Regions from separate parts of the Homo sapiens genome. Here region 1 is linked to region 2. The links come from fine-mapping of genetic effects on gene expression. Tissue or cell type: whole blood. Region 2 holds a variant in brackets; the other region holds the start of a gene. All regions are shown on one strand. Distances are between the middles of the regions.

Region 1 (8,159 bases), 45 kb before region 2:
CAAGGAGTTTCAGGAGGCCTTTGGGAATTCCTTAGATGTTAACATTTGTTAATTAGGCCACATATTCTTTCTTTTGTGGCTATTAAAAAGAGCATATGAAAAGAGAGACAGAGGATGTCTAAGCAACCATTAAAACCACCATCCCTCACCATATTTCAAATTCCAGATTGGTGATGTTGACATCTGGGTCCTCAAAAGCACAGGTCAGTGAGTGCTGCGATCCATTCACTTCCAACTGGCTATAGCATGAGAATGAGTAGTCATCCAGTTCTGCATCTTCCAAGTCTCCTGGGGAGGAACAAACATGCAGCTGTTAATGAAACAAATAAATGCATCCTTTTGAAATATGGCATGACCTTAATAAAATAGCAGACTCTGTGGCAGACATGAAATAGTAATGGATTATGTAGTATTCAAGGAAGAAAAGCCCAAGGGCAAAGACAAGAAAAATGCTTCAAAACCAACCAACCAACAAAAAACAAAAAACAAAAACGCTCAATGCTAACAGAGTTTTCCAATAGAAAAAAAAAATCCATCATAATGAGTAAGTAACCTCCAAATATTTCTGAGTTAAAGAACCAGAGGCATTGAACACATTCTTTTCTGTATTTAAACTGGAGTTTTTTCTGCTACATTTGTTACATTGATTGTTCATATTATTTCAAAGAAGAGACACTTTATTTCCATTATCCCCATGCTACCTAATCTCACTTTTCACTTTATTACAAATCATAATTTATTCCCTCCCTAGTATTTTTTTTGTCTTAAATGAAGGACAATGATAGCTATCTTGCAGTCAGAATTTTGCTTTTTTAAGAGGTCACTTTCCCTTGCCTAAAAAGGCATCCCAATTAAAAGTGGCACTGATTATTTCCATTGTCTTAAGCTACTGACTGAGACAAACGTGATTAGGGAAAAAAAATTAGATCTGGCAGGACTCCGATTTGGTGAAACTTCCTGTGAATGTTGTACATACTGCTTCTGTTCTTATAGATTCTTCTATAGACGCAGTATCTGATAGATTCTAGCAGGATGCTGGAAGAAAGTGGGGAACCAGATTTTTTTTTTTTTTGCTATTACTTTTGGAAAGTGTGATCTGTCACACATAGTATTTGGTTTCTTAAGCTGTTTTGTAGACCCTATAATGAAATCTACATTTTGTATGTATGTTTTACATGATAGAAAGTGAGGCTGGAATAAATATGTCAGAAAATATACACCCACTGGGACCTGAGAAAATCTGGAGTAAGCAAAGCCATTCTCAGAGTGCTCAAGTGTGAGCCTAGGACTGCTTCCATGTATTTTTGGTTCATCAGTACTAGAAATTAGATGCTTCCAAGGCTTTACACTGGAGACAGAATATACTAAAATCAAATCCCAGTTGATTGTCCCAGAGACCAAGGGCTGTCCGAATAGCACTTTCTTTACTTAAATAACTCAGTAGGGAAAATGGGAAAGTTAATAAAGCTGACTGTGAATGGACCAACCAGTTGAATGACAGGTTGGTTCAGTCAAAGCAACAAATCTCAAACAGCCCTAGCTAGACCATGGGTGTGGGCACTGCTCACAACCACAGGCATTTGTTTTTCTGGCCATTCCCAGAATCCATCCAGTTCACAGTTCTGCCACCAGCAAAAGCTCTTTATGTAGTTTCAGCAGGGTATGGCCCTCCTTCTGATGACAGCACGAAATAATGAGAGACAGCCCACTAATTTTGTAGACTTAGATTTCTTCCCTGTGCAGTGGTAGCTTTCTAAATGCAGTGGTTCTGACCTTACATGGCAGTCCTCACACTGTCCTGACATTTTCTCTTCCACCAATTCTATACACAGAACATGTATTATTATTTGGATTCAGACATCCTGTGGGTCGGCTTTGTCTTCACGATTCTTCAATAGAGACAGCACACTCTAGCAGATGTCAGCACCCACATAACAAAGGACTCCCACTGCCACTCAGTCTGGCAAAGCATACAATATACAATGAGCCATTTATACACTGTTTCCTGCACCTAAAATGGCTGTGTTTTAGGAAGCAGCTCACTGGCTTTTCAGTAGATATTATGGGGCAGAGTTGCTTTGTAACCAAGAAAAATTCCCTTCAATGACTTATAAAATGTGATGGCATTTTACAAAAAGAATATTCTACATGACGTGAGCTGAAAAATTCTTGGCTAAGAGTAGTTAATGTACACAGTGGTTAAGACCTGTGGTGTTAGAGCTGGACAGATGTGCGTTTAAATTCTGGATACTCTACCTGTGGTCCTCTGTCAGGTAGGCAACTTCTCTAAGACATGTGTTCTAATATGTAAACTCGTGCTATGAGCAATCACTGAATGGATATTTACAAAGAGGTAGCTTAGAACACAGTAAGGATTTAATAGGGATTAGCTATGAGTATAATATTTTCTGAGAAATAAGTAATGAAAAGGTAAAATAAGAATTCTAATTCTGAAAATATACATGAAACATTTGAGCTTCTCTTTAAAAAGTTTATGTCAATTGACGGTGTTATAATTACTATGGTTTTGAAATTACATAGAGCTTTTGAATAATGAGTTAATCTATTATTCTTTAAATGCTCAATAATTAATATTATTCATATTTAAATAGGTATCTAGACATATTTATCCATAAAAATTTAAATTGTGTGGAATATGTATCATAGGCAAGCCAGTGTCATCTAGAAGTCTTCTTCCTACTGAATGGAGTTAGTTGATTAATAGTGTAAATGATTTGGATTTTTAAAAAGTATCCCTTTCTTCTCTTGATCATCCTTGTGATGATCAGAAAATTGACAACTTTCAACAAGCAGCAACTGAATGTGAATTCCTATACCCCAAACTGGGAAGTATTTTGACGTAATCATGTGAATAGGGTAATTATACATCTTCTAAAAAATCTGAAACTTAAAAAGTTGGAGTGAAAACCCAGCTTTCAACTAGCATTCTTATATATTTTAAAAATAGTATGATCACCAGGGTGAACTAGTGAGTATAGATGACATGAAAGAGAGTAAGATTTATGTTTCCTGCCTCCCATCAGTCTTTGTGGAAATCCAAGGCAAAGTTTAGCATAGAATAATAATCATCCCCCATAAAGTGAGTCATATACTGTAAAAAATGTCAAACTCTCTGACAATTCCCTTAATGAGAAAATTCTAGGGATTTCCATCCTTCGTAATTACATGACTCAAAATGCATAAGCTGAGTCATTAGGCTGATGTGTTTGATATTGTCTATAGCCAAATAGTTTTTAACTCTTAAAGAGAAAGGGCTTAATTTGCAGGAGCAAGTTGATGGTCTAAATTCCCACATGCCTCCTGCTGCTGTTAGAAGCTTCTGCCTAGTTTTGTTATAATTACAATGTGTTTATGTATGGGCAGGGTTGGCTTCTCGGTACTAAGTTTTTTAGATCCCAAAAAGAATTATTACATATGGCCAATTTGTTGGTGTGGAGGCAATTCAGTGTATTTCAATGAGTAAACTCATTTAGATCTTTCTCTAGTCAGTTATTTACTTAAAATCTCACATAAATCTCTCAAAACTAAAGTATTTTGAAAACACTTTCAAAAGTTATTGGATGTCTACTATATTCTAGCCACTGATTTAGGTGCTGAGGATATAGCACTGGTCACTGAAGACAAAGCTATTGCTTCTGTACATTACCTTATCCTGAAAGTTATGCTTTCAGGATTTCTTAAAAAGTCAAACAAAATGAATCCAGTTTGATCTCCTGACAAGGTAAAATTACTTTGGACATTTTCCTACAAGTACAGTCATAGCATCTACATGAGCATTCTTTTTGTAAGAGCAGAGTAATCATTCAACATTTAAGATCTACACTTGGGAGTGAAATGCATTCCTTCTTGAGAATACTGAGGTCTTATAAACCACCCATAGTATTGATCCCCTGCCCCCTGTCATGGTGGTTAAACATTAAAAAAAATGACTGAATATGTGGGAAATTCTCAAACTGCATTCAAACCCAGTGCCTGACTCAGGTCTGTTAGGGAACTGAATAACCTGAAACCATGCTACAGATAATCCAAAATCCATAAGAAAACTTAGAAATGACTCACCATTTTGAGCATAGCCACTTTCTCCAGAAACGACTTGAAGTAAAGAAAAAACCATGCCAAAAGTTGTACCTAGAATTGTCATTCTGAGAGAGATAGAGAGAGAGAGTAGATGTGTGAGCCAGTGTGTATGAAATGAATGAGAGTAAGAGGAAGGGAGGGAGGGAGGAAGACAGAGAAGCTTAGATCTAGGGCTTTATACTTATCTAACCACAGACAAGGGAAGTATAAACACAGCAAAAAAGAAGGCAAGTTCCAGAAACAGGAAGTCTGAGTAAAAGTATTGCTGCTGTAAGCAGAGGTCAAGGACATGAAGAGACAGAGCCTCTGAAATTATTGTTCCTCCTGGATATTCCCTGCAGCCCCCACACTTACTGTGCTTACATCAGAGTAAGGCAGTAGATTCACACCTAGGCTCAAGCTATCTTAGGCTAGAGGCTACTTTATTTTTTTAATTTTTATTTTTTTGAGACAGAGTCTTGCTTTGTTGCCCAGGCTGGAGTACAATAGCATGATCTCGGCTCACTGCAATTTCCACCTCCCAGGTTCAAGCAATTCTCCTGCCTCAGCCTCCTGAGTAGCTAGGACTACAGGCAAATGCCACTATGCCAGCCTAATTTTTGTGTTTTCAGTGGAGACGGGGTTTCGCCATGTTGGCCAGGCTTGTCTCGAACTCCTGACCTCAAGTGATCTGCCTGCCTCAGCCTCCCAAAGTGCTAGGACTACAGGCATGAGCCACCGCTCCTGACTAAGGGCCCACTTTAAAAGAATCTGAAGACAAAAATTCAAACTTACAAAGTGAATCAATTGGTTGTTTGGAGTGAGTTTTGATTTAAAGAAACAGTCTGCACTATGTGAAGTACTTTATTGTGGGTTTATTTTAAATAGCTTACCTCCAACTTCCAAGTTTCACAAGAATAGCAGTTTTTCTCTTTTGTTCTCTGTGTATCCCTGGTATTTACTCATATCTTACACACCACAGTAGGCATTCAAGAATTATTTGTTTAGGGCAGGGGCTGGCAAACTATGACCTAGGGAACAATTTTTTAAAAAATTATTCATTTATTTTTTCTTTTTCAAAAGATCTTTTTTTTTCCCAAGTAAGCCTTGGGACCAAATTTAATCTACCACCTGTTTTTGCAAATAACGTTTCATTGGAATACAGCCTCACCCATTTGTGTATCATCTACAGCTGCTTTTATGCAACAATGGCAGAGCTAAGTAGATGAGATAGAGATTGTATTGTACAAAAGGTGTAAAATCTTTACTATCTGACCCTTTGTAGAAAAAGTCTGCTGACCTCTTGTTTAAAGGATAAAGTAGGTACTTTCTTAGTGTATTTAAAACAGGATTCTATTTGTGAAAATTTGATTGCCACACAACTTTTCAGGTACACATAGTACATATGAACTAAATTAGTGCCTAGGTATATGGGGCAGAAATCTGAGACCATGGCATAGAAAATTCAGACTCCCCCAAACCTGAATGCCAGTCAAAAGCCTTCCTAATATGGCCTCATGGTTAAAGTGGTGATATTTGTAAAGCCTGACTGCTTCTTGGTAACTGTTAGATTTTTTTTTCTTTTTCTTGAAAAAAATAATCTAACCTGGATTCAGGCCATAAAACTCTATGCTTGATTCACAGTGGCTCTCTTTTGGAAAAATGCCACAAGACTGCAGTTATAAGGTGAGGAGTGCAGAGAAACTAAGTGATCAGTGAGTTATGAACTTCTGTTGGATTCACTGTCATTAGGTAGAATTGCTCCCATGGGCCTGTGAAATGGCTAAAATTAGCAGAGACAAGCAACAACCCCCCAGGTGTAAAGCAAATCGAAGAGACTTTAAAAGACTCATGATTTAGCTTGTCCCATCATTACAATTATTTGACAATAACGAAGTAACAAAAAAAGGAGGTGGGACATTTGTACCAGTCTCTGGATCCTCCTTTTCAGTTTTAAGACAGACTCCGTCTGCACCAGTTATAATGCCACACTTTGGAGTATAGGCTCAAGGAATACTTCGGAGCAAGAATCCAACTGAAGGGGACATATTCCATCTTCTCCATTTGTCAGGGCCTTCTCTGGGCATTTCAAAACCCTTCCAAGCCAAATAAAGAGTGACAATTTTGTGCATCGATAATAATTTATGCCCTCATTTCTAATCTTGTTTTGAAAGCTTGGTTAGAAAATTGTAAGCCTGATTCACAAAAATTGGTATGTTTTGTACACTGAGCTAAATACCCTTTCAAGAAAGCTATAATTACAGATTCCCATGAATTAAGCTAATGTTCAAGGAGAAATCCCAAATTATATCTATCTACCAATGCAAATCTCCTAAACTGCTAACAGATTGTCACTTCATGGGTGAGTAACTGGGTTATGTCTCTTTAAATTCTCTTGTTTATCATTTAAGTGGACTATCATTTTGATTGTATCTCTTTCCTTTAGTTGTGAAGATGTAAAAGAACAAAGCCAAGACACAATATTTTGGTACAGCATGTGCTGGTTTGTTCTGGGGATTTCCACAGGGGTGCTTACTCTTGGGTGGGGCAGGAGATGCTGAAAAGACCTCAGAGAGAAGCCTAAAGTGTGGGGAGCTCAAAGAAAAATGACATGCGTCACCAGTCCTTCTAGAGATTGTGGGGGAACAACAGTGCCTTCTCTCTTTCCTCACTCAGGTCTTGTTAGTCCTTTGGAGACTTAGAAAAGCTGAGGAAGAACCACCTAGTTCACCCTATCCCCCAGGTAACAAACATTTACTATATTACTTTGTCATTACTTTTGTGAGACAAGCACAGAAAGAAGAAAAGAGGATGAGGAACACTATTTGGGGACACTCAAGTCTCCAAATGTGAAATCAGGAGGGAAGCATTGGACTGTGGTAGAAGCAAGCAGTTTGGCGTGGCAACTGACTTGGCCATATTTCTTCTCCTCCTCTTCACCCATCACTTCCTTTCATGGCTACATTTTCTCGTCTCTCTTTTGTACTTTGTCTTCCTTCAGTTTGATGAGTTTGTATGATGTAGTGAATCATTAAAAAGGAAAGCCAGCTGGGTGCAGTGGCTCATGCCTGTAATCCCAACACCTTGGGAAGCTGAGGTGGGCAGATCACTTGAGCTCAGGAGTTCAAGACCAGCCCTAGTAAACATAGTGAGACTCTGTCTCTGCAGAAAATAGAAAACTTAGTCAGGTGTGGTGGGGCCCGCCTGTAGTCTTGGCTACTCAGGGCTGCAGTGAACCGAGATTGCGCAGTGAACTGAGATTGCACCACTCCACTGTAGCCTGGGTGACAGAGTGACAGTCTGCCTCAAAAAAAAAAAAAAAAAAAAAAAAAGCCATTTGATTCTTTCTCATACACAAGCAGAACACACTGACCTTGTTAAGACTCCTGACACCAGTTGGCCAAGTCTCCTTTTCTTCCTTTTTTGTAATTGTTCAGGCTATTTGCCCAACAGGCAAAACACAAAAAAGACTTTCTTTTATCTTCAGATTGCAATAAGTTCTGTGGTGTTCCTATATAACCGGTAGAGTCCTAGCAAGTTAAGAGAACTTATCTTTTAACGAGATTGAGATCCTAAAATGTTAGAGGGGTGTATCCATTATTTGGTTGTTTGTTGTTTGTTAACTGGATAAAAATCTAGCCCAGATCTTCCTTTTTTTTTTTTTTTTCTGATTAGTAAAGACAAAGGTTTTCCTGGGAAAATTCAGGCTGAGCATCTTGTCTTATTACTAGTGTTTACTATCTGGATCCATCTATTAGGAACAGAAATTTTGACTCTATTCTCTACAGAAATTATGAATTTAGTTGGACAGATACCAGTGTATCATGAGAACCCTGGGAAACAAACTGTTTCAAGGACAAAAGCATTCCTCTGACTCAGTTTTTAGATGAAGCTTATAAAATAGTCCTTAAGCCTTTAGCAATTTGTCCTAAATGAGGATGATTTAAAAGTCACTCACCTTGGGACTATATATTGAAGGACAATAAGTGAAACAGCAATAATAACAGGCAGTAAATGTTGCAACAGTAATATCCTGGGTAAAATCTGATGTTTGAAAAATACTGAAAACACATTCTATGTGT
Region 2 (8,210 bases):
AGAAAGGGGAGAACAGTAGATGGGGTCAAAGAGGCAGGGAGGGTAAGATCAAGATGGGACTTGGGCTGGATTCTGGGTGACATAGGACATAGAGGGTTGGAGCAGAAGTGTGACATGGCCTGACTCGCATTATAAAAGGCTCCCTCTGGCTGCTGTGCTTAAAAACAGCCTGTAGGGCGAGCAAGAACAGAAACAGGATCACTGGTTACCCGGATACTGCAGTAATCCAGGCAAGAGATGGCAAAGGCTTGGACCAGACTTCCTGCGACAAAGGAGTAAAGAAGATCACATTCTAGATGCATTTTCAGGGTCTATCCTACTTGATGTGCTGATAGGCTGGAGGTGGGATATGAGAGAAAGAGGCAACTCAAGGATGACTTCAAGTTCTCTGGTCTGAACAGCAGGAGGACACAGTTGCCTAAAGTGAAGGAGGACTTAGAGGAGCAGGTTTGCGGAAGAGGAAAATCAGAAATTCACCTCGGACACGCTGAGTTTGAGATGACTATTAGCCATCCATGTGGAAAATGCGGGGCCATTAAGACAGAGAAGTTTGGATTTTGGACGAAGGTGGGAATAGAAATTTCAGTGTTGGGAGCCTCTGTAATACCCATGAAGTCATGGAAATCGATGAATCATCCAGAGCTTGACTGCAGATGGAGAAGGCTGATTCCTGGGGCCCTCCTAACTCAGAGGTTGAGCAGAAGAGGAGGATTCAGCCAATGAGGAGACCCACAGGGGTTATCATAGAAGCAGCCCAGCCACCAAGAATACATCACCATTCTTGAAACAGTTTATTGATAAGTGTCATTGAATTTGAGTCACCAACTTATCAAGCGAAAAGATGAAATTGTACATCTATCTATGAAGGAAATATATTCTATTAAGAAATAATTATGAATAGATGATGGGAACAAAGCTTTACTAGCAGTTCAATAATGCAGCCTTCTTCTTGGCTATTGAAATAAACCTGGAAATTTTACTGCATATGGAGAAAGAACTGTAAGATGTACCTAGAAGCACTGTGCTGATGTGGAGTTTTGGGGAAATTTTCACTATATCTGCCTAATGTAGATACCTTTCATAGGGAGTTTTCATGACTTATTTTTGAACATCTTGTTTTGGGGCCTTCCATTTTCAGAATCACTTCAAAATGCATTCCTGCTTACTTTGGATTTTTACTTTGGATTTTTTTCTCTCTTTATTATGAAATATTCTCCAAGTTAAGGAAGGTTCCATTTTCAATGCCGATAATGAACTGGTAGGGTTCATTTCTATACTTAAAATGGTAACATATATGACAAACACCATGGTCACATTTAATTTTTGGAAGATTTATTGCAGAATTAAAAAAATCACACTCTTTTGTCTTCATTTCTTTTCCTCTGTATGTCTTGAAGGTGATCTCTCTCCATCACTTCCTTGTACATGTTCACTCCTTTGGAGAATTATTTTAATATCCTAAGACAAAAGATTCAAAGAGAAGTTACAAATACTAATAAAGGATGATCAATACTATACTATACAAATACTAATAAATGATCACATAGTACATGGCAACCATTAAACAGTTTTTATTTCTTTTTTTCCACTGAGCAAATTTCTCCATTTAGTTTTAATCCCACCCTGAGACTTACTACTTGTATGTTTGGAAAATTATCTAAGATCTTGGACCCTCAGTTTCCACACCTAATAATGGAGTTGTCATATTAGGTTAATTAACATTTGTAAAAGCAGTTACACAGAACCTGGCATATAATGAATGGGCAAGTTAAAAGATTGTTTCCTTATGAATGAACAAAAAAACCAGTATTCACCCTCTATGAAAGTAAATGCTAATGCTAAATTAATCATGTCTATAGATTTGTAGAATTTTAAAACAAAAGATTACTTTCCTGAAATTGTCTCATTCTTTCATTGTAAAAACATCAGGGAAAGAATGACCTGTTTTACATTTGCTATACAGCTATCTTACATCTTAAATCACAGATATTTTTCAAAATATATTTAAACTATTATTACAATGTAGAAGGAGTACCAACATGTGAAAAATACAGAACTGCATTTAGGTAGCTTTTAGGTTTTTTTTTTTATTTCACAATTTTAGAGAAGTATTTTAACAATATAAGTTCCTTTTCCTCAGAGCTGAGTTTCAAAGGCTTCAATTTGACTGTGATCATTTTAGTTGAGAAGACATGAGTTTGTTCACCATATGTGCTGACCCTTGCCAATTGACATATGCACTGCTTCTATCAGTCACTGCGAGGAATCATAGTGAATCATTTTCTTTAGAGATCTTGTTCCTTGAAAACACAAATCTCCTAAAGCCAAAGGTCAATGCTAAGTGAACCAAGTGGAAAAGAAAAGCTGCTCCCCATTGACTTTTCTAGTCTTACCCAGTATAATTCTTCCATTTATTATTTATTTTTTTTAGAAATAGAGTTTCGCTCTGTCACCCAGGCTGCAGTGCTGTGGCATGACCATAGCTCACTGCAGCCTCAATCTCCAAGGCTCAAGAAATCCTCCCACCTCAGTTTTCTAAGTAGCTGGGACTACAGGCACATGTCACCATGTCCAGCTAATTTTAAAATTTTTTATAGAGAGGAGTCTTGCTCTGTTGACCAGGTTTCTCTCAAACACCTGGCCTCAAGCAATCCTCCCACCTCAGCCTCCCAAAGTGCTGGGATTACAGATGGCAACCACTGTGCCCAGCCCACTACAATTCCTAATAACATGTCTTCTTTATATAGTATGTTTATAATAACTAATGTCATTTTAATATTATCAAAAGTTAATTTGAGGATTAAGGAATAAGCTAACTTGTGATTATCTGACACTCCATAGCAAGGGGAAAATGATAAGCTCCAGATATATTTAAACCAGTCTTAGCTAAATTTATAGCTGAAATCAGGGACCACAATTTTCAGTAGCAGTGAATGGAGAAGAGCCTGTGAAAGCCAGAAAATGTTTGACACTGGTGCTTTGAAAACACAAAGCACTGAAGCAGCTATCATATTTTGTTATAAAGATAAAGGAGAAGCTTAGAGAATATTTTAAAGTCAGGTGCCCTGAAGACAAGAGGGATGAAAGTCTCCTTCAGTTCGCACTTATAATTATAGGTATGTTATCCTAATGTAATTGGGTCCTGATTCATTTGTTTATAAGATATTTTCTGGTGATATTCTAATGTTAACATTAAAAGATTTCTTGCTATCTCCTATTGAATATAAACCTCAATTATAAGGTAATATGCTTGATTTACATATTTGTTTTAAAGAATGTATAATAATTGAGCCTGCGTTCATCACAAGAAACTAAAGTTATTAAGTTTTTAGAGAAAATTGTTTATTCATTTACATTTATAAATATATATTTATCACAGGAAATTGACTTTGTTCACCAACAACCCAGTTCCAATATCCTCACTGATCTTCTTATATTTATACAAATCATTTTCTTAATAATTTAGGAGCATTATTTGAAAATAACTTTTTTGTACAAGGCCTATGAAAGTGGAAATTAAATAAGTGACTTTAGCTGAATGCCTATAATGTCCAACGCAAAATCTGGAACTTCCACATAGGTATGGACCAGAGGCTTCCTGGGACTTCAATTTGGACCCTTTATCATCATGGCACTGCACCAGTAAAGTCCTTCTTTTTTTCCAAAGACAAGACATATGTGTTCAAGAGATTAGATGCCAGCTCACTAGTCCATCCACATATAATTGCACGTGATTCAGAATTTCTTGTGCACGGTAACTACTACAGACCAGCAGTAGTAGAAGTAGGTTGGTGCAAAAGTAATTGTGGTTCTTTGCCATCAAAAGTAATGGGAGGCCAGGTGCGGTGGCTCATGCCTGTAATCCCAGCACTTTGGGAGGCCAAGGTGGGCGGATCACGAGATCAGGGGATCGAGACCATCCTGGCTAACACATTGAAAACCCATCTCTAATAAAAAAAATATGGAGAAATTAGTCGGGCGTGGTGGCAGGCACCTGTAGTCCCAGCTACTCGGGAGGCTGAGGCAGGAGAATGGCGTGAACCCGGGAGGTGCAGCTTGCAGTGAGCCAAGATTGCACCACTGAATCCAGCAATCCAACCCTCCAGCCTGAGCAACAGAGCGAGACTCTGTCTCAAAAAAAAAAAAAAAAAAAAGTAATGGCAAAAACTGCAACTACTTTTGCACGAACCTAATAGTAGTAGTAGTAGTATCTCATATATATTGAGTGCTTTCTATCTTCCAGGAACTGAGTTAAACACTTTATATGTATTATCTCCTTTAATTTGTACAAACCCCACCCCCCCCACCATGAGGTGACTATGATCATTGGCCCTATTTTACAGATGCAGACACCAAGGCACTTTGAGGTCACTTGCCGAAGGCCACACACTTCATAGGTATGAACCCAGTCAGTGCAGCTCCAGAGCCCACTCTCATAACCAAAAGCCAGTACACCTTAAATGCATTATTACAATTATGCATACTTATTTTTTTCAAATATGTATCTTAAAATGTTGTCACTTCTAAACAAGAACCTTGTAAACATAGAGCTGTTAGGCAACAACCTTCACTTCCCACTGTTTATAATAGCAAACAACATTTTAACCTGAAAAACCACACTCTAGCTTTTGCTCTTCTTATCTTGAAAGATCTTCAGATGACATCACTGTGGTTGAAGTGTATTATAAAAATGTGATCTATTTACTTGTACATGGATATCTGAAGCAAAAAATGACAGGAC[G/A]AGTGCAGTGGTTTGAGTCTTCAAAGATTCTTTTCTCTCCATTCCTTCATTTCTTTTGTTTTTATTTTATTATTTATTATTTTTTTTTTTAGCAAAAATGAGAATAGAACACCTTACTGGAAAGGGACCCTTTTTCACTGTAAATATTAGAATGTAGACTTTTCAGGACACAGGCACAACTCTTCTTGATGGACCATCATACAAATGAGTCCCCTGGGTGGTAGTTTACTGGCCTCTAATTAGATTCCTTGGTGGAGTGACCAGGAAGAGGTGTGGAGGACTTGAGGAGGGAGAGTTAAAGTAGATGACTCAGGTATATCTTAGAGAAGCATTCTGGCAATGAACTAACTCACTAACTAACTCTCTGCTATGAGAATGCCAGGTGCTACAGGTATTGTGAGACTGGTTAACAGAAGACAGACACCCTGCTGCTGGGTGGCTTTCAGCCAGAGGGGTACTGTGCATCAAGGAAAGCTTGGCAAATGTGCAGGCAGAGGTGGTTTTGGAGATCAGTATGTCAGGATGTTCCTGGAATACAGGGGGTAGGGCCTGAAATGTTAGGTATTCTGCCACACTTGGGACAGTTATCCTCAAAGAGGAACTGTGCTGCTCCAAATGCCAATAGTACTTCAGTTAACATTGCTAGTTGCTGACACTCCTTCAGAAATGAGGGGAATGTATAACTTAAAAGGAGTCCTCCAGCACTTTGGGAGGCTGAGGCGGGTGGATCGCCTGAGGTCAGGAGTTCGAGACCAGCCTGGCCAACATAGTGAAGCCCCATCTCTACTAAAAATACAAAAAATTAGCTGGGCGTGGTGGCAGGCACCTGTCATCCCAGCTACTCAGGAGGCTGAGGCAGGAGAATCGTGTGAACCCAGGAGGTGGAGGTTGCAGTGAGCCCAGATCATGCCACTGCACTCCAGCCTGGGCAACAAGAGCAAAACTCTGTCTCAAAAAAATAAAGTGGGGGAGTCTTATGGATGACAGGTTTCCTGGGAAGTCAGAACACCTATTCGGAAAGGCTAACTCTTGAAGGTAGCCATCTGTTGGCTATTTTCTTTTCTCAAGCAAATTGTCAAATAGAATCTTCTTTGCAAGTTCATCATATTTAATCACTCTGCTCAGAGTGAAGATATTTTCAAGTCATACTGATTTTGTGGGAGTTTTCTTTCCAGTATGAGAGGAAATAATTGTGGCATCATTTTTATGCTCCTACTTGTAATCAGCAATATAAAATAAGTCCTATTTTACATAATTCCAAAGGATTTTGCAAATTATTTTACTGGTTCAATGTAAGAGAGCTGTTCCCTGATATGTGGAGCAGGGAATGTAAGCTAAAATGCAGTCTAGAGAGATGGGCCTATGGAATCCACGTTGTGCAGGATGACATTATGGCACAATATCCCCAAGGAATGCTTAGGGATGAAGAAATTAACATCATATCATGCTCTGCTCAGCAGCCTGTTCATTCTCTCTTGCTTTTCAAATGGAATCCACATTTCCCTTTGTGACATCTGGGTTCTTCGCAATCTGGCCTGATCTGACCAATTTAATGGGATCATTTTATACCTTTCCCAGGCTATTCATGGGGTGGGGCTCCTGCAGTCCTTCTTCCATGCCTTCCCCAGACCTTGCCTTCACCCAGGACTCTGCTGCCTCCCTACCCCAACAGCAAAATCCATGTAGACGTCCCTTTCCCTCTCTCCACTTTCCCAAACCCTGGCTATCGTTCAAGACCTAGCTTATTCCTTCTTGGGCAGACTCCCTCCACACTTCCAGCACAAAAATGTCAAGTATTGAATTCCTATAATTTTGCACTTGGTTGGTTTAACTTATATCACTTTCTTGCAATTCCTGCATGTAAAAATTATCTTGCAAAAAGGAGTTAAATTTTTTTAGAGCAGTGACCAAATTATGTACTCAATTTTCTCTCTCCTATGGAAGCTTATACTACGGGTCTCAGTAGTAGGTGATCAGTATTGAATAGTACCCCTAACAGCCATCATTTCTGTAGCACTTCCCCTGTGTCAGATACCATGCCAAGTGCTTTACATGCATGACCTCACTTAATCCTCACCACCACCCTTTGAATATGAATGTTTCATCCCCATTTAACAGACGAGAAAGCCAGGATTAGGAGAAAGTTAAGGTCAGGGAGTTACTGAGGGGTAGACCTGAGATTCAGTCCCATGACCTGATTCCAGAGCCTGTGTTCTTACATGCTGTAATCATATTTCACTACTGCATAGGCTTCGTGTCTAAACAGCTGCTAGCTTGTTTTATATATATATATATATATGTAAAACCCAATTTTTTTACATATATATTTAAAAAATATATGTATATGTTACATACATATATGTATATATATTGGGTTTTACATATATACATATATACATATATATGTGTGTATATATATACATATAAATATATATGTGTGTATATATATACATATAAATATATATGTGTGTGTATATATATGTAAAACCCAATAGCAAAGACTTGGAACCAACCCAAATGTCCATCTATGATATATACACTGGATTAAGAAAATGTGGCACATATACACCACGGAATACTATGCAGCCATATAAAAGGATGACTTCATGTCCTTCATAGGGACATGGATGAAGCTGGAAACCATCATTCTCAGCAAACTATCGCAAGGACAGAAAACCAAATACCGCATGTTCTCACTCATAGGTGGGAATTGAACAATGAGAACCCTTGGACACAAGAAGGTGAACATCATACACTGGGGCCTGTCATGGGGTGGGGGAAGGGGAGAGGGATAGCATTAGGAGATATACCTAATGTAAATGACGAGTTAATGGGTACAGCACACCAACATGGCACATGTATACATATGTAACAAACCTGCACGTTGTGCACATGTGCCCTAGAACTTAAAGTATAATTAAAAAAAAAGAAATCAACTTCAGTTATACTAATACAGGCAATAAAATTAATTTTAATATTAATTAATAATTTAATATTTAAAAGGATCAGCAACTTAGAACAAAAACGTTTAGGCACACAGGAAGATATTTAAGTCTGAATAGTTTCATTTGTGGGTATAGGAAGAAAACTGCAAAATGTAACTTGCTATCATTGAGAAGTCAAGATACACAATCTACATTCTATCAAAGTGAAAGCGCTTTTATTTTCAACTCAGCAAACACTTTGTAGTTCAATACACAACTCACAGGAGTCAAACAGGGAGACTTCGTGTTAAACTGGTATCTGAGAGGGATGTAGTGCTACAGTATGAAAGGGGGTTGGTGTCAGCCTCTGCCCTCCTTAGTCCCTGCTGTTAAAGGCCTGGGACTCGCCATAGTGGATGCACATTTAGCATGTGTGGTCCAGACCTGCTTGGTGGTTATGTGATTTCTGAGTTGCAGTTCTTCCTTTCTTCTGCTGGGTTTGTCCAGTTTCTCTGGGGTTTGTCCTTAGTTTCTCCATCTTGCAC

Evidence for each region. PIP is the estimated chance that this variant, and not a neighbour inherited with it, causes the effect.
Region 1: it holds the start of IL7R, and the variant in region 2 is fine-mapped to the expression of IL7R in whole blood (TOPMed, PIP above 0.99).

What each region holds. Positions count from the first base shown.
Region 1 is chr5:35,852,981-35,861,139 of GRCh38, reverse strand. It overlaps IL7R (interleukin 7 receptor), which reads right to left and starts at 4,249. Exons shown (of 8, transcript NM_002185.5): 1 at 4,081-4,249; 2 at 150-288. The coding sequence starts at 4,162. RefSeq lists an enhancer at 1-447.
Region 2 is chr5:35,807,712-35,815,921 of GRCh38, reverse strand. SPEF2 (sperm flagellar 2) reads right to left here. Exons shown (of 37, transcript NM_024867.4): 37 at 1,311-1,458. The coding sequence ends at 1,369. Among named protein-coding and RNA genes, the nearest start is that of IL7R, 45 kb to the left of the region's middle. The variant G/A (reference allele first, on the strand shown) is at 4,742.